Linked DNA regions of Homo sapiens: regions 2, 3 and 4 are each linked to region 1. Evidence: fine-mapped expression QTL. A gene starts in region 1. Each other region holds a variant in brackets. All regions are shown on one strand. Distances are between the middles of the regions.

Region 1 (6,380 bases):
TTCTAGTAGGGATAGATAACCATTAAGTGGAACGATGCGTAATATCATATCAAATGGTGCTAAGTGTTATGAAGACAATGCATAATATCATATCAAACAGTGCTGTTATGAAGACAACAGACTACTTCGATATGTAACAAAGCATTTAGAATTAGTGGGCTTAGAAGTCCCTTAGGTAGATGACATTTGAGCTGAAGCCTGAATGATGCCCTCCAAAGACACAAGCTTTTGAAACATGACTAGCTTAAGTTTTCACAGCCTTTTATTCACTGACTTGCTACTACGCCAATGTTAGAGTTACCGTTGGTTTGTCTCCAGGAAAAATTTTGAATTGTCTCCAGACAGTTCCAGTTAAAAGTAAATGTAACCATTCATTATCATCTATGCAAAGATTCATTCTTTAGCTACACAAGGGAGGACAGATTTCCTGGAAGAGAAGGAAAAGGTTATGGGATCCTGTGAATGGTAGAGAGACACCTGCCACTGGGAATTTGTTATTGAGTATTTAGAGATTTGAGGGCAGTATAAGCATCAAAGACAGTGTTTAAGTCTTCATGATTATTTATCCATTTTGTACCTTCCTTAACAAGTTCTATCAACTGGTAGGACTCCACATTTGACACTAAAATATATACAATTATCAGTCCTCCTCAGTTATCTGGGGCTATGAAAAAGAAAACATAGGCATATTGCAAGTGGCAATAAAACAACAGAGCTTTACTGTGTCATTTCAATTTCTCTAAAACTACTACCGGATCTTTAGAAATGCCAGCCACCAGGGCAGCACTCTTCCAGGCAAACATTATGACTAAACTGTAAAATATTGTGAAAAGTATTCATGAAGGAGGTGAAGACAAAATCACTAAACAGGAACGAGTGAAGAAGCAACATACTGGAACGATGAAATAGGGAGTTTTTTGCAATTTATAAATTTCAGCATCAAATGTTTTTCATTGTGAGGTCTTCTTAATGTTCGTGATTCTAAATGTAATTAAGTTCACCAATACTTTGGGGGTCCCTATTATAGCAGTCAAGGGTCTTCTGTGAAGAACTGAAATGATGAATAACTGATGGTCACAGCCCTTAAAAACCTTATAATTCAATGAAAGGCTAAGGAGAAAAGTCCAGGTGCTCATTAGCTATTAAAATAAGGCAGATTTTAAGACAGCCATTATACAGAGTAAGGCAAAGTATTGTGAAATTACAGAAAAAATAATAATTGAATCCAGTAGAAGTATCTGCAGATGCGGTCCAAAGGAACTGGTGTCCTGGCTAAGACGGAGCCAGCAGTTATGGGCAATGATAGTGTTCCATGTGGAGAAAATAAAGTGATCAGATACCAAGATGGCAACACACAGGCAATATTCAGGGAACACAGACCAGATACGTGTGATCAGGGAACAAATAAAGAGTATGGGGAGAGGAATTCTATAGAAATAGAATGAAAGAAACTTGGGTTGGGACTAGAGTTAAAGAACTTTAGACTGTCAAGTAATGACATAGCATTGAACATTTTTTAGTAGAGTGGCTAAAATGTAAAGAATGGACAGAAAGAACAGCAGTATGCATTAATTTCAGTTTATATAAACACTACCATGGACCAGGTGTTGGGATTAGACTTCAAATTTGGGGATTAGATAATTTGTTGATAGAATGGACAATGGTTTGTGAGGAGAAGAAAGAGGTGAAGCTGATTCTGCAGTTCCAAGTCTGGGTGACTGGGAGGATGTTAATGCCAGTCTCTAAGCAGAAGCAGGTTTGGAGTGGAATAGGTTTCGTTTTGGGCATACTGTTGACATGACAAAACTGATGTCACATATCCTATTTCCTGACTCCTCCTGGGATTGTCCCAGAGCTATTACCATGATTAATAGTTCATATTGAACAACTCCTTGAGAATAAAATGCCACAGGTATCATTTACGTATGACACATTACGTTCTTCTGGCAACTAGGTAGTTGATCTGAAAGACGGGCTGTTCAAAGTTCAAATCATCTTAATTGCACAATGCCGCCGACTGTACGCCCATAAGATACCTTAACCCGGTACACTTCAAAGACAATATTCTCGCCCTTACAACAGAGCTATACATTGTAAACTGCAAACTGAAAAGTAGCCTTTATTCTGAAGGAAAATCAATTTAATATTCTTCCACTAAATTATCAAAACAATTTTTTTGGCGGAGGCTGGGGAGGGGGTGGTGGCTGAAGCCTCGCCAGAGACTGAATGTGGTGTGGGATTCAACTAAAGCAGCACATCTTCAGTAGGTCCCCCGTGGAGGGTAACGAACATCTTGGGTTGTCTTTCACCAGAATTGTGTTCAACAACTCACGTTCTGGAGCCAACCCGCCGCAGATCAGAATCCAGCTTCTGCACCACACAGCCGTGATCTCGGACAAGTTACTCAATCTCTTGTGTCTCAAATTCTTTACCTATAAAACATCTACAACTAGAACTGAAGACTTGGCTGCCAGGCACTGGGCTAGACATAGATTTACAGCGGTGAGGACCACCAAGGGGAGCTAAAATTCGAATGTAGGGAACAGACGATTAACAAGTTAGTTTCAGAATGAAAGACTCGAGTGTAAGAATTCAATGGGATAATTCCTGTAAAGCGTTTAGTACAGTAAAGAGCGAAGGGAAATTCTGAATAAAAGGCAGACACTATTTTAGGATTTGGCCTTCCCCGCCCCCTACCAAAACCACGTAAACTCTTAACAGAAGCGACTTCTTATTGTCAGGCGCCTAAAGGCGGCTTTTGGGATAGGGAGGGTCCTTTCTTCCTCCTTGGGGTAAATGCGATTTAGCAGCCTTTACCGACCTACCCAACCCCAGGGCCATTTTGTGGGAGGAGGTTCTCTCGTGCTAGACAAGTTCCCTCTAATAAAGCCCCTTAGCCGAGATGCCAGGATTGGGGTTAGGGAACCTCGCCGCTCCCACAAGGGCTGGGCACAAAAAACAAACAAAAAAACACAAGTTATTTTGATCTTCCCCCAAAGAATAGTAAAGGAATTTCCCCCGACCCCGGCCGCCAGGAGCCCAGAGACCCCCCAGCCTAAATAACAATGGCGCTGGAGAGGGCGTGGCCGCGCGTACCTGGGGTGGGGGAAGGGGAGAAAGGCGGCCAGTTCGGATCTGAGCCACTCGCAGGGTCACGTGACATCCTGCCTCGCCCCGCCCCGCGAACAAACCTAGGCGGGGAGGGATTCGGGAAGGGGCGAGGAAGCGGAAGGAGCAGGCGGACTGGCGATGATGGGAAGTGACGAAGTGGCGCAGTTCGCTGCGTGCAGCGACGTGGCGGCGGGGCCGGCACCGGGCAGCGGAAGTGGCTCCGGCGGTGGGACTTGAGTGTTTGTGTTTTGGTTCGTGAAGGAGCCGGCGGCTGGCCTTAGGGGAGGAGGCAGAGGGAGGAGGAGGAGGAAGAATTAGTCGGAACTCCAGCGCCGGCGGCGGCGGCGGCGGCGGAGGAGGAGAAAGGAAAGAGGAAGGGGGAGCGGCGAGAGGCGGAGACGGAGCCCGACAGGGGCGGCACCACGGCACGAGCCCCGCACAGTCCAGTGTGAGGGGAGCGGCGCTAAGAGCAGGCGACGCCGCCGCCGCCACCACCACCGCCATAGATACACTCTCATCCTACGGGCCACGCCTGGGCCTTGCTGCCAGGAAGCTTCGGCCCCGCAGCTCGGCTTGCTGCGGTCTCAGGTAACCGAACCGCCCCTCCTCCTGCGCAGCGGGGGCCTGGACCCCAGGTTATCCGCGGTCCCCAGCCTGTCCGCGGCCCTGCCGGTACTGAGACCCCCCACCCCTTCTCCCTCACGCGCAGCAGTGCCCTGGACCAGAGAACTATCGAACCCGGCGTCTTGTTCTGCCAGCCCTGGTGACTCATCCTCCAGGGGCTCTGGAGACCGGGATTTGGGGACTGACTGAGGGAGCGACGGGTGTCACCCTTTCCCTTCTCAAGATGGCGCCGTGGAAAGTGTACTGGAGGCCGCGGTTCCGCCTGGTCTCCGTCCTGGCAGTCCTGGGGGTCTCGGTCAAAGCAAGGCAGGTTCGGGGGAGGAGGTTGGAAAGGCCAAGGGACCTGGCGAGTGCTGCTTATCCAGGCGATCTGTAGTTGGCTATTAGCTACTCAGGTGCTCTCCAAGCAGGAACCTGGGCCTACTGCAGGTGTCAATGTGGGGAGCTCCGCCTATCTTCAACTTCCAAAGATGAGTAGTGTCGGTGGGTGGGAGGCTCGTCAAAATAGGCTGTCTAGAGACTTGTTTTCTGTTTGGAAGGTAGTGAACTACAGCGTTAAATAAATTCAAGATAACAGGACCGCTGAACTCCTTCACTGGGTAGAGACCATGGAACTTGCTCTGGCGTTATCTTCCCTGGAAGCTGCTTACCTCTGAGACTTTCAAACTTGTTAAGTTCTGAACGTCATAGTTCACATACTTGGTTTTTGTCTTGCTTAAATGGAATCAAAGCGTTCAATCAGTTGCCTTTCACATAATAAGAAAAAAACACTTGTACACCTCTGGGAATACTCAAGACTGCTCATAAACTTTATTCCTAAAGTAAAATGGAAGTGATAACTCAGCATTTGTATAAACAAAGTAAATGGAACAGTGCCTGGCACAAAATAAGTGCCCAGTCAATTTTTTGATCAAAGAACCCTTAGAAGGATTTTAACTATAGAATGAATAACAGTTATTTTCAAAAGATTACAAATGTATATTATGCAAAATTCTTGTTTTGCAAAACAGAAGTTTCAGTAAGCAGTGAATACAAATGAATGCACGTAATTTTTAACCTTAGTGTTATGCTAAGTGTATATTTACCATTAACTTTAGTTATTTCCTGTTTGAGATCCTTAGGGGGAGTAGCCACAATTAAGTAGCTTTAAACCTTAAAAGTCAAAGTGAAATCAGAATCTTGTTTGATTTTTTTTTTTAATGGGAGTCTGATATTTTCCCTAAAATTTTGGAAGTGCCGTAGAAATTTGGAGCATATTGTCCTTGATAAGTAATTTCTTGTTTTCTTAAATAAAAAGACAAATGGAAAATGTTTTGATTGTGTGTAATATCTGAAGATGTATTGGTGCATTTTCAGTATATATGATGTTCTATTGATATTTTATCATTTTCTTATCAAAGGAGCACATTATTGGCAATTTCAATCCCTACTATGTATATTAGAGATTGTTTACATGTATTGTTTTATTTAATTGTCACATCAGCTATGCAAGTTAGATATTATGGGAATAGAAACTTGGAAATTAAAGAGTTTGCCCAGACGGAAATTGGTATAGCCAGGATTACACCCCTAAATCTGGTATGTTTGTGGAGGAGGGGGCATTTTTATTTATACCTTGTTATTTGGAAGCAACTCAGATATTACGTCAATAAATCTGTAAATATTTCAGTATGTAATGGTAAAAGATAAGGACTCTAAAAAGCTGGTGTTTAGTTAAGGCAAGGAGGTAGTTTCATTGCCTTAAGAACTAAGATCTCGTGGACATGTTAGGGAATTCATTATGAAGAGCGTATTATAAGCTCATTTTATGGGAAAGGCATATTTCTTTCTTTTGTTTTTAATATAGAGACAGGGTCTCACTGTGTTGCCCAGGCTGGTCTCAGAGTCCTCCTGCCTCACCCCCAAAGTGTTGGGATTTACCGGTATAAGCCACTCTGTCCAGTGTGAAAGACGTATTTCTTATATGAGGTAGCTAAATGAAATATAGCAGGGTTTTTAGAGAGGGAATCATCAGGTTTAATATATTAGCATGTATTCGGATTTTGATTAAAGATAGAAGGAAACTGTTAAGATTGGTTTGTGAGTGGATTGAAAAAGGTTCTTCAAATATTCACTAATTCCTTAGAGATTAAAAATTAGCATAGAAGTCGCCATTCAGGCTAGATTTCTTTAATGTGTTGTTTAAATAAAAAATAATGGCCTGCAGGCTGGGCGTGGTGGCTCACACCTGTAATCCCAGCACTTTGCGAGGCTGAGGCAGGAGGATTGCTTGAGCCCGAGAGTTCAGGATCATCCTGGGCAACATAGCAGTTAAGTGTCTCTACCAAAAAATTAGCCTGGCATGGTTCTGAGCGCCTGTAGTCTCAGCTACTCAGGAGGTTGAGGCAGGAGGATTGCTTGAGCCCAGGAGGTCTAGGTTGCAGTGAGCTGTGACCACGCCACTGCACTCCAGCCTGGGTGAGAGAGCAAAACCCTTTCTCCAAAAAAATTTTTTTAAAAATGGCATGTATATTGTTCGTCTAAAGACTACAAAAAAGTTACAATTATTGTAAGTAAATAAGTCAGTAATAATCACCACATGGAGAACAACTGTTAGCATTTCTGTGTATGGTGTGCTTGAGCAGATGAGGAAACAGTTTTAAGTC
Region 2 (5,663 bases), 27 kb after region 1:
ATAGTAGTATTTTAAAACTTTAGGACTTTGAGAAATCATGAACGTCTTAGGGTGTATTATGTATATCAAGAGTTTATTATAGTGGGCTACACTATTCCAGTAATATTTCTGTTCATTTAGTACTGTAGCACTTTTCATTTTTTAAAGTATATTATAAAACTGATTTTCCCTGGCCTCTAATGTTGGTCTTTTCTCCCCCAAAATTATGCTTTATCATACCACATGAACAGTAGTACGGTGGTGGTGGTGGTGGTGGTGGTTGTTGTTTTGAGACAGAGTTACACTCTTGTTGCCCAGGCTGGAGAGCAATGGCACAATCTCAGCTCACTGCAACCTCTGCCTCCCGAGTTCAAGTGATTCTCCTGCCTCAGCCTTCCGAGTAGCTGGGGTTACAGGCATGCACCACCATGCCTGGCTAATTGTTTTTGTATTTTTAGTAGAGACGAGGTTTCGCCATACCGGTCAGGCTGGTCTCAAACTCCTGACCTCAGGTGATCCACCTGCCTCGGCCTCCCAAAGTGCTGGGATTACAGGTGGAAGCCACCGCACCTGGCCCAGTACAGTGTTATCAGGTGAAAAATATCTTGATGTTGTTTTTGAGGTTGTGTTACAACTTGAGTAGATACCTTGTGAAATATCTATTTTTTCACATTTGGGAGCTGCCTCTCTCTACATTCAAATGTTATCTGAAGTAGCCTCTAAATGGTTCCATGTATCTTTTTGAACTTCCTTCTTTTAGTAGACATTTTTGAACATCTGTATGAACAAGGATTTATATTAAATGTTGGTACAGAGAGGAGCTACTACAAGTTGAGCATCCCTAATCTGAAGTCTGAAATGCTCCCAAATTCTTCGAGCATCAATATGATGTCACAAGTGAACAATTTCCACACTTAACACCTTTGCTTTCTGATGAGTCAGTGTACATAAACTTGGTTTAATGCACAAAATTATTTTAGCTTCAGGCTATGTGTACAAGCTTTATGTGAAACAAACGAATTTCATGTTTTGACTTGGATCCCTTCCCAAAAATATCTCATTATGCAAATATTACAAAATCTTTAAAAATCCAAAACATTCCTGGTTCCAAGCATTTCAGATAAGGGATACTTAACCTGTGGTCATTGCTCAAGTAACTCCCAATCAAGGAGAAGAAAAAGATATAAACCAATGATTATAAAAGGTGTGAAACGTTATTACACAGAGAACTCTGGGAGCACAGATGTAGGAGATATTAACTAGGGTGGAATGAAGGAAGGTTTCTAAGCAGAGTTGAGGAATGAATTGATTATCTTCTTTGTTAATCTGAATGGGATCCATTCCTGTTCAGCATGATTTCCCTTGGTTTTGTTCCTAGATTTAGGAATGATGCCCTGTTTTGCCATAAGGAAGAATCTCGTGTGTTTATTAGGAATGGATATTGACTCAAATGCCTTTTTGTAATTTGTTTAAATAAAATGGATTTTTCTTCATTAGCCTGTTAATGTAATAGTTTTGTATTTCTGAAAGAATGTACTTGGTAATGGGCATTTGTTTGTCTTAATGTATTTGTTGCAATTTCTTTGTATTTGGCATTTTTGTACATGTATGGTGTACATGTATGGTGGCCTCTTGTGTCTTTAACTGGCTTGAGAATTGGATCATATTTTCTTTAAGGCAACATCTCTAATACAGTTGGCCCTCTGAATCTGTGAGTTCCACATTTATAAATGCAACCAACTGCAAGTTGAAAATATTAAGGGGGAAAAAATTAACTTAGCTCCAAAAAGCAAAAATTAAATTTGCCACACACTTAATACTATGTTGAATCTATGTGGATGACGTGAGGTGCAGGCATTGTATTAGATATTATAAGTAATCTAGAGATGCTTTAAAGTATACAGGAGGATGTGCTTAGGTTATATACACATACTTTGCAATTTTATATCGGGGACTTGAGCATCCTCAGATTTTGTTATCCATTGGGGATTCTAGAACCAGTCCTTCATGATATATGGGGAGGTCCTGGAAACAGTCCTCCACAGATACTGAGGGATGACTATAGTTATTTCCCTGAGCCTGAAGTTTACTTATGGACGTATAAGTGAATGTTTTTAGTACTAGTAGACTTTGTGATCATAGTATGTCTGAAAAATGAAACAGTCTGTGCACATTTTAATTCCTTTTTTTTTTTTTGCAAGTCTGCATCAAACTATACTTGAAAAAAGGCTTATGTATTGTGACTTATTTTCCTCTTTTCCTTTTTGGTAAGAGTACTGTCTTAGGGACTTAATTTTAGTTTAAAATTTTAGTTTAAAAACATTTTTTGATCCTACAGGAGAACCTCTCGTGACCTTCAAAAAGTGACATAGTGCTGTCTGGATATCCTTTACCATAAATACAATATTTTAGAAAATGGACAATTCTGCTAATTGTTGGTTAAAAAAAAGTTTGAACTGGATTAGAATATATTTACAATGTGATTAATGAGAATTCATAAAACTATTAATTAGAATCTAGGTCCAAATGAAGATGTTTACAGTATTGTTTGCAAAATTCAGAAGATTTTAGTTGTTGATACTAAAGCCAGCAACCAGTTAACCTAAAAGAGCGTGAAAAATAAATGTTGTGTCTAACGTAAAAGAGATATATCTCATTAGACTTTGTTTCTTTAGCACATTTGATACTGGTTAGTACATCTCTATCAACGTCACTAGATAAACGGCTGTAATTTAGAGAAATATATCATAATTCTTTTGCATAATATGACAGTTTTAGAAAAT[G/T]GTAATTCAAGTGCATACCAATTTGGAAATAGGGCTTGAATATCACACCTTGAGCTAAATGTAGAAGGAAGGGAGGAGCATACCAATTTACAGTGAATGATAGAGCAGCAGCAGAGGGCGGTCTAATGGCTGTGTGTAGGTCTTTTAATTTTAACAATATTGTATCATTTTATAATGCTACTTTTTTTTTTTTTTTGAGACAGAGTCTCTGTTGCCAGGATGGAGTGCAGTGGTGCGATCTCAGCTCACTGCAACCTCTGCCTCATGGGTTCAAACGACTCTCCTGCCTCAGCCTCCCGAGTAACCGGAACCACAGGCAAGCGCCACCATGTCGAGCTAATTTTTGTATTTTTAGTAGAGACAGGGTTTCACCATGTTGGCCAGGATGGTCTTGATCTCCTGACCTCGTGATTTGCCTTCCTCAGCCTCCCAGAGTGCTGGGATTACAGGCATGAGCCACCACGCCTGGCCTATAATGCTACTTTCCTAGTGTTAAAATTAGAATCAGGGAAAGTACAGATCCAAAAAATTCTTATGGCAGGGAATGAAAGGTAGGAGCAAATATTGAATCAACTGAACAAATTAAATCTAGGTTAAGGTAATAATGACTACCACAATTAAAGTGTCACAATGTTTTAAAAAATAATATAGCAAGAGGCCTGGTACGGTGGCTCACGCCTATAATCTCAGCACTTTTGGGAGGCACTCCAGCCTGGGAGATAGAGCAAGACTGTGTCTCAGAAAAAGAAAAAAAAAGATAATATAACAAGAAATACTAATTTGGTGGTAACTGACTGGGACTAAATTGCCAGTGTGCGCCAATAAAAACTAGTAAAATGGAACAGGACATGGTGTCAGCAGTATAGATGGTACTTTTAGGCACACTGGGTTTCCCCCAACTTCATTTTTTAAGACTATCAGTGCATTTCTTTAATTGTAGAGCAATTTTGAAATGCAGTCTTCGCTGGGCTTGGTGGCTTACGCCTGTCATCCCAGCACTTTGGGAGGCCAAGGTGGGCGGATCACCTGAGATCAGGAGTTCGAGACCAGCCTGGCCAACATGGTGAAACCCCATCTCTACTAAAACTACAAAAATTAGCCACGTGTGGTGGTGCATGCCTGTAGTCCCAGCTACTCAGGAGGCTGAGGCAGGAGAATTGCTTGAACCCGGGAGGCGGAGGTTGCAGTGAGCTGAGATCACGCCCCTGCACTCTAGTCTGAGACTCTTGTATCAAAAAAAAAAAAAAAAAGAAGAAGGAAAAGAAATGTAGTCTTAAGTTTATTTAGTATTATAACAAGCTTTTTTAAGATGCAGAAGTTTTTCAATCTGTGATTTCACTACAAAGGCCCTATATGTAAGCATATATGTAAATAGCTTAGAAGCACAGGTTTGCCAGTATTTAAAGCTATTATCAGCTGTGGGTATGCAATCTGTCAAGTTTCTAGGTGTTTTCTTTTTTTTTCCCCCCTCATTTATTACTTTTAACTGACACATAATAGTTGTACATACTTACGGGGTACAGTGTGACATTTTGATAGATGTATACAAGCAGGTGTTTTCTATATTATGAAAACATTTGGAGAAAAATGATTGACTTATTGTAGTCCTTTTCTTTCAGCTGCTTTTCTAACCCAAACTGTATGTCTTGATGACACTACAGTAAAGTTTGAAATATGGGATACAGCTGGTCAAGAACGATACCATAGCCTAGCACCAATGTACTACAGAGGAGCACAAGCAGCCATAGTTGTATATGATATCACAAATGAGGTAAGTATGGATGCATTCCACAGTAAAACTAATTTGAGTACCCACTTTTGGTGTTCAGAATTTTGATTAAATGTTTTGGAAAATCTTTTTCTGATAGTCATGACCTTTCTGCTGAAGCTTTTGTGAATTAGAAAATCTGGTTTTAAAAAAAAACGAAAATGTCTCATAATACAATAGTCCTAATAATTTCTTTCCCACAGTCACTTGGGACAGTCTTTTAAAGCCTTGTATCACAAAGATGCTTGGTAACCATTTTTTGAGCCTGTGCTCAATGGCTGTTTCTTTGTTTAACAGGAGTCCTTTGCAAGAGCAAAAAATTGGGTTAAAGAACTTCAGAGGCAAGCAAGTCCTAACATTGTAATAGCTTTATCGGGAAACAAGGCCGACCTAGCAAATAAAAGAGCAGTAGATTTCCAGGTATGTTAAATTTAACTCTCATTTGAAAGGCACTTTTTTCCTGTATGTTTTTCTTTCATGTCAACACTTGAATTAGTTATAATGTCAAAACCATGCAAGTAATAGAAAATACTGATTTTTAAAACAAATATAAAGTACTACATATAATAAAATGTTTCTGATAAACCTAAATTTTTAAATAGATTATTGTAATATATAAACTGACCCAAAGATTTTGTAGACTTAAACAATAAAGGCCGGGTTCAGTGGCTCACGCCTGTAATCCCAGCACTTTGGGAGGCCGAGGTGGGTGGATCACCTGAGGTTGGGAGTTCAAGACCAACCTAACCAACTTGGAGAAACCCTGTCTCTACTAAAAATACAAAATTAGCTGGAGATGGTAGTGCATGCCTGTAATCCCAGCTACTTGGGAGGCTGAGGCAGGAGAATCTCTTGAACCCAGGAGGCGGAGGTTGTGGTGAGCCAAGATCACACTATTGCACTCCAGCCTGGGCAACAAGAGCAAAACTCCGTCTCAAAATAAAAAAGAAAAACAGTAAAAGTAGTCATTGTTCACAGTGCAGAAAGTGATTGTATCCTGCCCTAATTCCTCCATCCCACACATACTTTATGTCCTAACCCTCTTCTACTCATGTGCAAATATGTATCAGCACATGTGTGTACCCCACATATGTACATACGCAAACACTTATGTGGTTGTTCTTAAAGGGGCA
Region 3 (5,631 bases), 52 kb after region 1:
GTGATACTAATAGGGAAATTTATAGTAATAAACTCCAAATAAACAACGTAACAATGCACTGCAAGAAACTAGGAAATCCAGGACAAACTAAACTCAAAATTAATAGAAGCAAAAAAAATAAAGATCAGAGCAGAATTAACCAAGGTAGACACTAAAAAATACACATAGGAGCAATAAAACAAAAGGTTGTTTTTATGAAAAGATTTTAAAAGTCAATAAACCATTAGCTAGCCTAAACAAGAAAAAAGAGAGAAAATCCCAAAAAAATCAGAAATGAAAAAGGAGACATTACAACAGATGCCACTAAAAAACAAAAGATCATTAGAGACTATTTGAACAACTATACCCTAACAAATTAGAAAACCTAGAGGAAATGGATAAACACGTGGACACTTACAACCCTACCAAGATTGGACTAGGAGGAAATAGAAAACCTGAACAGACAAATAACAAGTAGCAGGATTGAGTCAGTAATAAAAAGTCCCCCAAATGAAAAGCCCGGGACCAGATGGCTTCACTGCTGAATTCTACCAAACTTATAAAAAAGAATTAACACCAATTCTTCTCAAACTTTCAGAAAATTGAAGAGGAAGGAATTCTTTTTAACTCATTCCATGAGCCCAGCATTACCTGGATACCAAAATCAGAAAACACACAACAACAAAGAAGAAAACTATAGGCCAATATCCCTGATGAATGTAGATGTGAAAATCCTCAACAAAATACTAGCAAGCTGAATCAAACAACATATTTTTTTTTTTAAAAAAAGCACCATGATCAAGTGGGATTTATTCCAGGGATGCAAGGATGGTTCACACAGAAATCAATAAATGTGAAGCTTTGTGCAGAGGCAGTATCATAGCCAGTGAGGTTTAGCCACGTTGTGATTATTGCTAATTGAAAACTTTTCCCCATAGCTCACCGTGACGACTTGTAATACAGCAAGCATTAAAAATAAAATAAATATGACACATTACCAACAGAATGAAGGAGAAATACCATATGATAACCTCAATAGATGGCCAAAAATTTTTTTGATAAATTTAACATCTCTTCATGATAAAACTTCTCAACAAATTAGGCATAGAAGAAACATATCTCAACAGAAGAAAGGCCCTGCTATGGTATGTATTTTTGTTTACCCCAAACATCATGTTGAAATTTTATCAACAATGCTGGAGATGGGTTCTGATAGATGTTTGAGTCATGGGGAGCAGATCCCACTACTGAGTATGATAAATAGCCCACCGTGACGACTTGTAATACAGCAAGCATTAAAAATAAAATAAATATGACACATTACCAACAGAATGAAGGAGAAATACCATATGATTATCTCAATAAATGCCCCCCAAATTTTTCTGATAAAATTCAACATCTCTTCATGATAAAAATTCTCAACAAATTAGGCATAGAAGAAACATGTCTCAACATAATAAAGGCCCTGCTATGGTATGTATTTTTGTTCCCCCCAAACATCATGTTGAAATTTTATCAACAATGTTGGAGATGGGTTCTGATAGATGTTTGAGTCATGGGGAGCAGATCCCACTACTGAGTATGTAGCCAATGGATATCAAGGAGATACCTGCACCCCCACGTTTTATGCAGCACTATTCACAATAGTAAAGATACAGGGTCAACTTAATGTCCATCAGTAGATGAATGGGTAAAGAAAATGTAGTATAAGTACACAACGGAATACTATGAAGCCATGAAAAAGAAGGAAATTCTGTCATTTGTAGCAACATGGATGGAACTGAGGGCATTATGTTAAGTGAAATAAGCCAGACCAGAAAGACAAACATTACATGTTCTCTCTCATATGTGGGTCCTAAAAATTGTTGATCTCAATGAGGTAAAGCAGAATGATGGTTACCAAAGATTGGGAAAGGTTGGGGACGGGGCAGGACGAGATAAAGTAAGGTTGGTTAATAAGTACAAACAGTCCAGGCACAGTGGCTCACCCCTGTAATCCCAGCACTTTTGGGAGGCTGAGATGAGCAGATCACAAGGTCAGGAGTTCGAGACCAGGCTGACCAACATGTTGAAACTCTGTCTCTACTAAAAATACAAAAATAGGCTGGGCACGGTGGCTCACGTCTGTAATACTAGCACTTTGGGAGGCAGAGGAGGGTGGGTCACCTGAGGCCAGGAGTTTGGGACCAGCCTGACCAGCATGGTGAAACCCTGTCTCTACTAAAAATACAAAAATTGTCCAGCCGTGGTGGCATGCACCTGTTATCCCAGCTACTCAGAAGGCTGAGGCAGGAGAATGGCTTAAACCCGGGAGGCGGAGATTGCAGTGAGCCAAGATCGCGCCACTGCACTCCAGCCTAGGCAACAGAGTGAGACTCCGTCTCAAAAAAAAAAAAAGGTGCAAACATACAGTTAGAGACAAGGAATAAGTTCTAGTGTTTGATAGCACATTAGGGTGACTATAGTTAACAATAATTCACTGTATATCTTAAAATAGCTAGAAGAGTTGAAGTGTTCCCAACACAAAGAAATAATACACATTTCAGGTGATGAATATCTTAAATACTCTGATTTGATCATTACATATTATATGCATATATCAAAATGCCACAGGTACCCCATGAATATTTATAATTATTATGTATCAATAAAATAGATAAACATTTTTAAAAAGAATGTGAGTTTGGCAGTACCTTTTTCTACATGCACAAATTCAACCTGTATTCAATGGCTTCATCATTGAACTAATATGTCATTATAAGGTAATAATTTTTTTTAAATTCTAGAGTCATGATGACATTGATATATTATGAATTTTAAACAGGGAAACCTAATTCCCTTGCTATAATTAATCCTGTTCTATAAAATACAAAATAATTCTTGAAAAATTTGTGTAAAATTATTTTCTTATGGCTGAAAGTCATTTAAAGTTCTTTCTTACAGAAGTACTTTTGTAGCTAAATCATGACCTCAGGTTCTCTCTTTTACAATTTGAATTTTTTTCACCCATGTGTCTTTCTATGAAAATGCAACATGCCTAGATGCAAACAGTTTAACACCATTGTATAGGCCTGGAAATTAAATCCAACTGTTTGACCTGGAGATTAGAACCAACCAATCAGCAGTGTGTCTAGA[C/CTT]TTTTTTTTTTTTTTTTTGAGACAGAGTCCTGCTCTGTTACCAGGCTGGAGTGCAGTGGCATGATCTCAGCTCACTGCAACCTCCGCCTCCTGGGTTCACACCATTCTCCTGCCACAGCCTCCTGAGTAGCTGGGATTACAGGCATGCACCACCACTCCCAGCTAATTTTTGTATTTTTAGGAAAGACAGGGTTTCACCAGGTTGGCCAGGATGGTCTCGATCTCCTGACCTCGTGATCCACCCGCCTTGGCCTCCCAAAATGCTGGTTACAGGCGTCAGCCACCGCGCCCAGCCATTTTTTTATTTTTTATTTTTTTGGAGACGGAGTCTCTCTTTGTTGCCCAGTCTGGAGTGCAGTGGTGTGATCTCAGCTCACTGCAACCTCCGCCTCTCAGGCTCAAGCGATTCTCCTGCCTCAGCCTCCTGAGTAGCTGGGATTACAGGCACCTGCCACGCCTGGCTAATTTTTTTTTTTTTTTGTATTTTTAGTAAAGACGGGGTTTCACTATGTTGGCCAGGCTGGTCTCAAACTCCTGACCTGAGGTGATCCACCCACCTCGGCCTCCCAAAGTGCTGGAATTACAGGCGTGAGCCACCACCCACAGCTGTGTCTAGACATTTAATGACAGTATCCACTTATTGAATATGTCATAATTTGTCATATTAATTTTACAAAGACTTTTATAATTAATGATATCTTCCATAGGGGTCCCAATTCCAAGAATATGGGTCAGTTCACAGATTGGCCTTAAATCTGTAATGATTATGTCTATGAAGTATTTGGAACCTCAGCATAGAGCCTGAGAAACGACAAAGACTGTGAGGCAGTGGACATGCACTTAGCTTTCTTGGTATTGTTTAGTCTGGAGCCCTTGACATTTCAGGCTCAGAACCAGGTTGGATCAGAAACAGGCTGACTTTCTGGCACCTTGACATTTGTTGTAGTATTCTTTGTGATTATCTGGCCTTGCAACACTGTCTCTGCCACAAAGTCCCACTCGCGGAGGCCCAGCCTCCTCAGGCTTTGGAAACAATCCCCTTAAGAGGTAACATGATATGGTAGGACTGATTTCCAACTCCAATTCCTATTACTTCTGAGACCTTGAACAAATTATCTCACATTTTTTAGCTTTAATTTCTCATCTGAAACATTGGGTTAACAATACTTAGATATCACTAGATATCAAAGTTATTGTAAGACTAGACGAGGAAATTACTCTGTATTCAATATTCAGTAAGTGGACACTATCATTAATGATAATTCTATCTATGAAAAGGGTAGTAGAACTGTAGTTAAGTATCTCATGGAACTCAGTGTGGAACTCATGTCAATTTTGCTAAAAAGTTTTACCTCTGAGCTTTCCATTTTGGCAAGTTCCTAAACTCCCTGAAATAACCTTTAAACAATACAGGTAACTTCTTAAAGAAGAGAATACACGCTCATAAAACTGAGGCATGAACTATTATTCTCTCTGAGATGAAATAGATGCTACTTGGCCAGTGAGCATGAGAATGACCTATTGCAAATACAGTTATCAGAGTAACTGACCAATTTAAACAACTACACTAACAATGAGCAAACAACTTTCCATTTTTCTGAAAAAAGGAAGTGTACAAAATGTTTTTAATTTTGTTCAGATTTAAGCATATGTAGTAACTTTGCTTTTCATCCTTATCAACAACTGTGTTGCTACCCCTTTGGGAAACTTTAACGTATTTGTCACATTATATCATATCTGTGCCTCTTTAAAAAATAATTACAATTATTTTTGTGCCTGCAATCTGCATTTAAATTGTGGTTATTTGTTGTTTCTTATATTGATCAATGCAATTTCTAGGTACTAAGTCACTAAATAATAGACAATAAAAAATTGTGGAAGCATGAGGGGTTTTGCTGCAAGGAACCAAAAACATAAAGGTGTTATTTGGTGCTATTCAATGTACATACCAGTGTTTGCAACATGTAATATTCCAGAAATTATTTTTGGCATCTCCTGGGAAGGGGAGCTCTCTGCCAACCCATCATGGGTATTTTTTCTTTTCCAATTCTTATGAGCATAAGGACTTTTAGGTTTGCCTTCCAATATACAAGTAACTGCAGAGCAGCCACTCCATTGAACCCTGGACACTTCTTTTCTTCCAAGACCTAAAAGCCTATCCATTCTCCAAAATGCTTTTGCAAAGGCTTTGTGTGTGTCCTCATACTCACACCTCACTGCTTCTGTTTTGTTTATGGCAGAAAAGAGGTCTTCTATTGCTGCGTATTCTTCTCTAAACACAGTGTAAAAGGAATTGATTATTTGTTGCTCATCAGTTGTCATTTGGTAAGAAGGATCAAATTTGGAAAGCTGATGGAGAAGTAAAACTGGGAGTTCCATTGATGTCAACTCTGCCGCTGAGGCACCGTGATGTCCATCAAACAAACCAAAAAAACACACATTAGGTTTGTTACCAAAATTACTCACTACAGTGAATTTATCATTCATGTCAGCTTTCCATGTAGAATTCCTGTCTTC
Region 4 (6,380 bases), 77 kb after region 1:
AGCAAAGGCTAGTGAGGATGTGGAGCAACAGGAACTCTCATTCATTACTGGTGTGAATGCAAAATGGTATGGCTACTTTGAAAGACAGTTTGGCAGTTTTTTACAAAACTATACATAGTGTAACCATATGATCTAGCAATGTTACTTCTTGGTATTTATCCAAATGAGTTGAAAATTTATGTTCACACAAAAACCTACACATAAGTGTTTATAGCAGCTTTATTCATAATTGCCAAACTTGGAAGCAGCCAAGACATCCTTCAGTAGGTAAACAGACAAACTATGGTACATCCATACACATTGCTCAGTGATAAAAAATAAATAAATAAAAATAAAAATAAGCAGGTACGGTGGCTCAGGCCTGTAATCCCAGCACTTTGGGAGGCCGAGGCAGGTGGATCACTTGAGGTCAGGAGTTTGAGACCCGCCTGACTAGCATGGTGTAACCCCGTCTCTACTAAAAATACAAAAATTAGCTGGGCGTGGTGGTGCGTGCCTGTAATCCCAACCACTTGGGAGGCTGAGAGGTAGGAGAATTGCTTGAACCCAGGAGGTGGAGGTTGCAATGAGCTGAGATCGCGCCACTGCATTCCAGCCTGGCAACAGATCAAGACTCCGTCTCAAAAAAAATAAAATAAAATAAAAAAGAAATGAGTTGTCAAGCCCCCAAAAGACAAGGATGAATCTTAAATGCATATCACTATCAGTAAGTGAAGGAAGCCAACTGAGGCCAGGCATGGTGGCTCACGCCTGTAATCCCAGCACTTTGGGAGGCTGAGGCAGGTGGGTCACCTGAGGTCTGGAGTTCGAGACCAGTCTGGCCAACATGACGAAACCCTGTCTCTACTAAAAATACAAAAATTAGCTGGGTGTGGTGGTGCGGGCCTATAGTCCCAGCTACTTGGGAGGCTGAGGTGGGAGGATCACTGAAGCCTGGGAGGCGGAGGTTGCAGTGAAGCAAGAGTGTGCCACTGCATTCCAGCCTGGGTGATAGAGTGAGACCCTGAAAAAAAAGGAAGGAAGGAAGGAAGGAGAAGGAAGGAAGGAAAGAAAGAAAGAAAGAAAGAAAGAAAGAAAGAAAGAAAGAAAGAAAGAAAGAAAGAAAGAAAGGTAGGAAGAGAAAGCAAGCCAACTGGAAACAGCTACATACTATATAATTCTAATTATATGACATTCTGTAAAAGACAATACTATGGAGACAGTAAAATGATCAGTGGTTTCCAGGGGTTCAGGAGAAGAAGGGATGAATAGGTGGAGAACAGGAGATTTTTAGGGCTGTAAAACTATTCTGTATGATAATGTAATGGTGAATACTTGTGACACATTTGTCAAAACCTATAGAATGTACAACACAAAAAGTGAACTTTAATGTCAACTATGGACTTTAGTTTATAATGATATATCAATATTGGCTCATCAACTATAACAAATGTACCACGCTAATGCAAGATGTTAATAATAAGGGAAAGAAGTGGTGGGAGGCAGTGAAGTGTATATTGGAAGTGTCTGTACTTTCTGCTCAATTTTTTTGTAAACCTAAAACTACTCAAAAGTAAAATGTATTAATTAAAGTGTGGTGTGTGTGTGTGTAAGCAGGGCATTCTGAGAAAATATCTTTCTGGAAGTGCATCTAGTAATTTTTTCCCCCTAATTCATATCTGAAACACATACAAATAAACAGTGAATGTTGTAGGAAATTAGAAGATAGACCACTATCTTGGGAAAGATAACAATGCAAGAGAAGAATTCCTTTATTTTAAGATGGTTATTTCAATTAATTATTTTATATATTGAGCACCTGCAGGGGTAGGCACTAGACATAAAGGCCAACAGCAGGTCTCTGTGCTTGATGAGCTCAGTGCCTGTCATGGGGAAGACAGACACACAGATGCACTACTAGATAATAACATTATCAGTGCTGACCATGTGCTGGGCTCTTTCTAAGCATTCCACCCACATTGTCTCTCAACCATACAACAACCCTGCACACAGGCACTAATAATCTACTTTACAGACAAGGACCCTAAAGCTCTAGAAAGTGAGTTAACTTTGCTGCAATAAATGGCAGAGCCCAGGTGTGTTGACCTGCAAACAGTTTGTCAGAAACTGCCAAACTGTCTTCCAAAGTGGCTGTAAAAATCAATTCATTTTGGAAGAAGAGGACAATCAGTGATACATTTGCTTAGATGTTTCTTTCACATTATTTGAAAGCGTTGAACTTCAAATACATTCACAAATCTTAATATCTGGTTCTCCCTCTTCCATTCTTGCCTTACTCCCACTGGAATAAATTCTTTGGCTTGTCATCCTCCCAACTTCAGGACAATCAAATACATATGGCTTAATGGGAAGGTGGTCAGATTAGAAAATATTCACAGCCAATCTCTCCAGTAGGCAGCCCTTGTTTGGCTTAAAACTGCCCGTTGAATTCAAGTTTCTTACATGTTCCACAACTATGATTGTAAAAGTCAAGGCAGCAGGCACCAGCCTGTGTGGAAGAAAGTTATATTTAGTATTCCTTTCGGAGCTGTCTCTTTGGATATCGTGGAGATTCTGGTACAGGCTGTTACTGTTTGAGGGCTTCTGGGCCTGTGGCAGAGAAGGAGTGGGTGGTTTGCTGACAGTTCTTATAAATACCCCCAGTATTTATTTAATGGCAGAAACACACAGAGAGAACACACAGAGTATTAGAGGAGAGAACATAGCTTAGCTCCATTCATCCCCTGGGCCCAGGACCAAGCACTTCTAATCTGTTCTGAGGAACTGCTTCTGGGGCCAGCTGCAGCCCTGTGTCTGGGGGAAGTCACCTGCCTGCTTGCTGAAGGAGGAAGGAAGGAAGGAACAGGGAACAATGAGGCCCTTGTAAAAGCCAAGTTTTGCTTTTTTTTTTTTTTTTAAGTTTATTTTCTAACCATATCACTCTTCTGCTTAAAACCTTTCAGTAGCTTTCCACTGTTTCTGGAATAAAGGTCAAAAGTCCTAATATGATGAGAAA[G/A]GTTCTGTAGGGCCTGGCCAAAGCCTGACTCTTCAGCCTAATCTCTCCCCACTTTCCCATTCATTAACATTCCTCAAACATAATCCACACTCTGCCCACCTCAGGCCTGTACATGCTATTCTCTCTGCTCAAAGGCTTTTCTCTCCACTGGCACTCAGTTAATTCTAACTCATTCCTCAATTAAAACCTCATTTCCACAAGCTGAACTTTAGCATCATCAGAAAAATGTTTCCTGATGCTTCACAGGAATCCTCCACACTTTGTCAAATGCCTCCAGAACTCCTTATGCTTTGCATTGATTCAAGTTTTTTATTTTATTTTATTTATTTATTTATTTATTTATTTATTTATTTATTTATTTACTTACTTACTTACTTACTTACTTACTTATGTGAGACGGAGTCTTGCTCTGTTGCCCAGGCCAGAGTGCAATGGCACGATCTCAGCTCACTGCAACCTCCACCTCCCAGGTTTAAGCGATTCTCCTGCCTTAGCCTCCTGAGTAGCTGGGATTACAGGCACGTGCCACCACGCCTGGCTAATTTTGTATTTTTAGTAGAGACGGGGTTTCTCCATGTTGGTCAGGCTGGTCTCGAACTTCTGACCTCAGGTGATCCACTCACCTCGGTCTCCCAAAGTGCTGGGATTACAGGTGTTAGCCACCGAGTCTAGACTTTTTTTTTTTTTTTTTGAGACAGAGTTTTGCTCTTGTTGCCCAGGCTGGAGTGCAATGGCTCGATCTTGGCTCACCACAACCTCCACTTCCCAGGTTCAAGTGATTCTCCCGCCTCAGCCTCCCGAGTAGCTGGGATTACAGGCATGAGCCACCACGTCCAGCTAATTTTGTATTTTTAGTAGAGACGGGGTTTCTTCATGTTGGTCAGGCTGGTCTGAACTCCCGATCTCAAGTGATTTGCTGCCTCAGCCTCCCAAAGTGCTGGGATTACAGGCATGAGCCACCATACCCGGCTGATTCAAGTTTGTAATGGTGTATTTGTTTGATTATTTAAGCAATGTCTGTCTCTTCATTCCCATCCTGCTTGCCTTTTTAATCCCAGAGCCAATTCATAGATTCGTAGTAAATATGCCTGCTATATAGTAAAAGTTTCATAAATATTTATTAAATAAATTAATAAACAAATAGAGTAATCATTTGAGCTCTTAAATATTTAGTTTTTAATAGAGGGAGTAAGAAAGATTCCCATATTTTTCCCTCATCCTCAGTTCTTAGCAGTGAGGTCTTAGTCTGAAGATACGTGCCTCAGAAGCTGGCCAATAGAAGAGGTAAGAGAAGCCAGAGTGGACTCTGCTGAGAATTTGGCCACCAAGCAGTCATCTCCCTTAGAACTGTGCTCTCCAACATGGTAGCTATTAGCCCCATAATAGGTGGCTATTTAAATTCAAACTATTTAGAATTTTAGCTTATCAGTCTTATCAACCACATTTTGCACACTCACACATGGCCAGTAGCTACCATATTGAATAATGCAAATAGAGAACATTCCCTTTATCACAGGAAAATGTATTGAAGAGTGCTGCTCTGGAATAGAAAATACCCTCTTCTGCACAGAGCATAGGATTCTCAGCAGGGTGACAGAAGAGAGCCCATTTTCCCCTCTGCTTTCAAATCAGGAGATGGGGGAGAGACCCTGCATCTATTACTACATTTGTTTCTATCACATAGAATTGTAGGTGCTGCAGCTGAAGGTGCTTTATTGCAAATAAAACCACTAAATGCTTCCAAATACAGGGTTGTTGTGAAGATTAAATTAGTTACAACCCATGTTCAGGCCCTTAGTTGGCTCTCAATAAATGTTAGCCATTTTGCAATACTCATCATGTGAATGAAAAAACAAAAAAAAAAATTTAAATTTAAAAAGTTGGGCACGCCTGTAATCTCAGCACTTTGGAAGGCTAAGGTGGGAGGACTGCTTGAGCCCAGAAGTTTAAGATCAGCCTGAGCAACATAGTGAGACCCCTGTCTATACAAAATTTTTTTTAAAAAATTAGCTGGGGCTGGGTGCAGTGGCTCATACCTGTAATCCAAAAACTTTGGGAGACCAAGGTGGGTGGATCATTTGAGGTCAGGAGTTCGAGGCCAGCCTGGCCTACATGGTGAAACCCTGTCTCTACTAAAAGTACCAAAAAAGTTAGCCGGGCATAGTGGAGCACCTGTAATCCCAGCTACACGAGGGCGGAGGCAGGAGAATCGCTTGAACCCAGGAGGTGGAGGTAGCAGTGAGCTGAGATCACACCACTGCACTCCAGCCTGGGCAACAGAGTGAGACTGTGTCTCAAAAAAAAAAAAAAAAAAATTAGCAGGGCATGGTGGTGCATGCCTGTAGTCTAAGCCACTCGGGCAGCTTAAGTGGGAGGATCACTTGAGCCGGGGAAGTCGAGACTGCAGTGAGCTGTAATTGTGCCACTGCATTCCAGCCTGAGTGACAAAGCAAAGCTTTGTCTCAAAAAATTAATTAATTAAATAAATAAAAAGTAAATAGATGGTAGCCACAATTGTTATTGGCTGAAAACCAAAGTGTTAAGTGCAGAATAGACTCTGGTGAAAATAATCTAACTTCTCTGAGCCTCAGGTTCCTCATCTGTAAAATGAGAACAGCTTTTTCTATCCTGGTAGGATTACATAGCGTGTTTTGCAAAAAGGGGTTATCACAGTACCTAACATGCAGTAGGTTCTCCAAAACCGTTAGCTCTTCTTTTTTTTTTTTGAGACAGAGTCTCGCTCTGTTGCCTAGGCTGTGGTGCAGTGGTGCAATCTCGGCTCACTGCAATGTCCGCCTCCCGGGTTCAAGCAATTCTCCCGCCTCAGCCTCCCGAGTAGCTGGGATTACAGATGCCCACCAACATGCCCAGCTAATTTGTGTATTTTTAGTAGAGACGGAGTTTCACCATGTTGGCCAGGCCAGTCTCGAACTCCTGACCTCAGGTGATCCACCCACCTCAACCTCTCAAAGTGCTGAGATTACAGATGTGAGCCACCGCGCCTGGCCAACTCTTGTTGTTTTATTATTGGTGGACGCTATATCAAATTTGACTTTCTCATGAATCACCTCAGAAATTGGATTCCAGCTGTTAAAACATTCCAGGTGTGTGTTTTAAGATGTACGGATGTGGCTAGTAGTGCTAACTTCCTGAAGCTTTCATTTGGTTTTGCTGAGGGCTAGCAACCCAACCTGTAAGTCAAATTGTTGGCATGAGTTAAATTTCCTTTGGTCCCACCCATATTTCTCAGTGCCCATTACTTCTCACTAGGCCAAGAAGTGCCTGGCAAATGCTATATGTCAGAATTGTGCTAAAAAGTGTTGTTCATTTTAAACAACTGAACTTCTAATTTTTCCATTTGACCTTAACTAGGTTTCTCTAATGT

The links. PIP is the estimated chance that this variant, and not a neighbour inherited with it, causes the effect.
Region 2: its variant is the best candidate, but not a certain one, in a credible set for the expression of RAB5A in whole blood (TOPMed, PIP 0.53).
Region 3: its variant is the best candidate, but not a certain one, in a credible set for the expression of RAB5A in neutrophils (CEDAR, PIP 0.52).
Region 4: its variant is the best candidate, but not a certain one, in a credible set for the expression of RAB5A in testis (GTEx, PIP 0.58).

What each region holds. Positions count from the first base shown.
Region 1 is chr3:19,943,823-19,950,202 of GRCh38, forward strand. It overlaps RAB5A (RAB5A, member RAS oncogene family), which reads left to right and starts at 3,275. Exons shown (of 6, transcript NM_004162.5): 1 at 3,275-3,699. It also overlaps a transcript of EFHB not described here. RefSeq lists enhancers at 2,156-2,757, 3,168-3,337, 3,263-3,432, 3,294-3,343, 3,864-3,913 and 1 more.
Region 2 is chr3:19,971,220-19,976,882 of GRCh38, forward strand. It overlaps RAB5A (RAB5A, member RAS oncogene family), which reads left to right. Exons shown (of 6, transcript NM_004162.5): 3 at 4,382-4,533; 4 at 4,828-4,950. Among named protein-coding and RNA genes, the nearest start is that of RAB5A, 27 kb to the left of the region's middle. The variant G/T (reference allele first, on the strand shown) is at 2,763.
Region 3 is chr3:19,995,967-20,001,597 of GRCh38, forward strand. PP2D1 (protein phosphatase 2C like domain containing 1) reads right to left here. Exons shown (of 3, transcript NM_001252657.2): 2 at 5,064-5,631. It also overlaps the pseudogene RNU4-85P. Among named protein-coding and RNA genes, the nearest start is that of PP2D1, 13 kb to the right of the region's middle. The variant C/CTT (reference allele first, on the strand shown) is at 3,115.
Region 4 is chr3:20,021,175-20,027,554 of GRCh38, forward strand. No RefSeq gene overlaps it. Among named protein-coding and RNA genes, the nearest start is that of PP2D1, 12 kb to the left of the region's middle. RefSeq lists a cis regulatory region at 1,686-2,133. The variant G/A (reference allele first, on the strand shown) is at 2,996.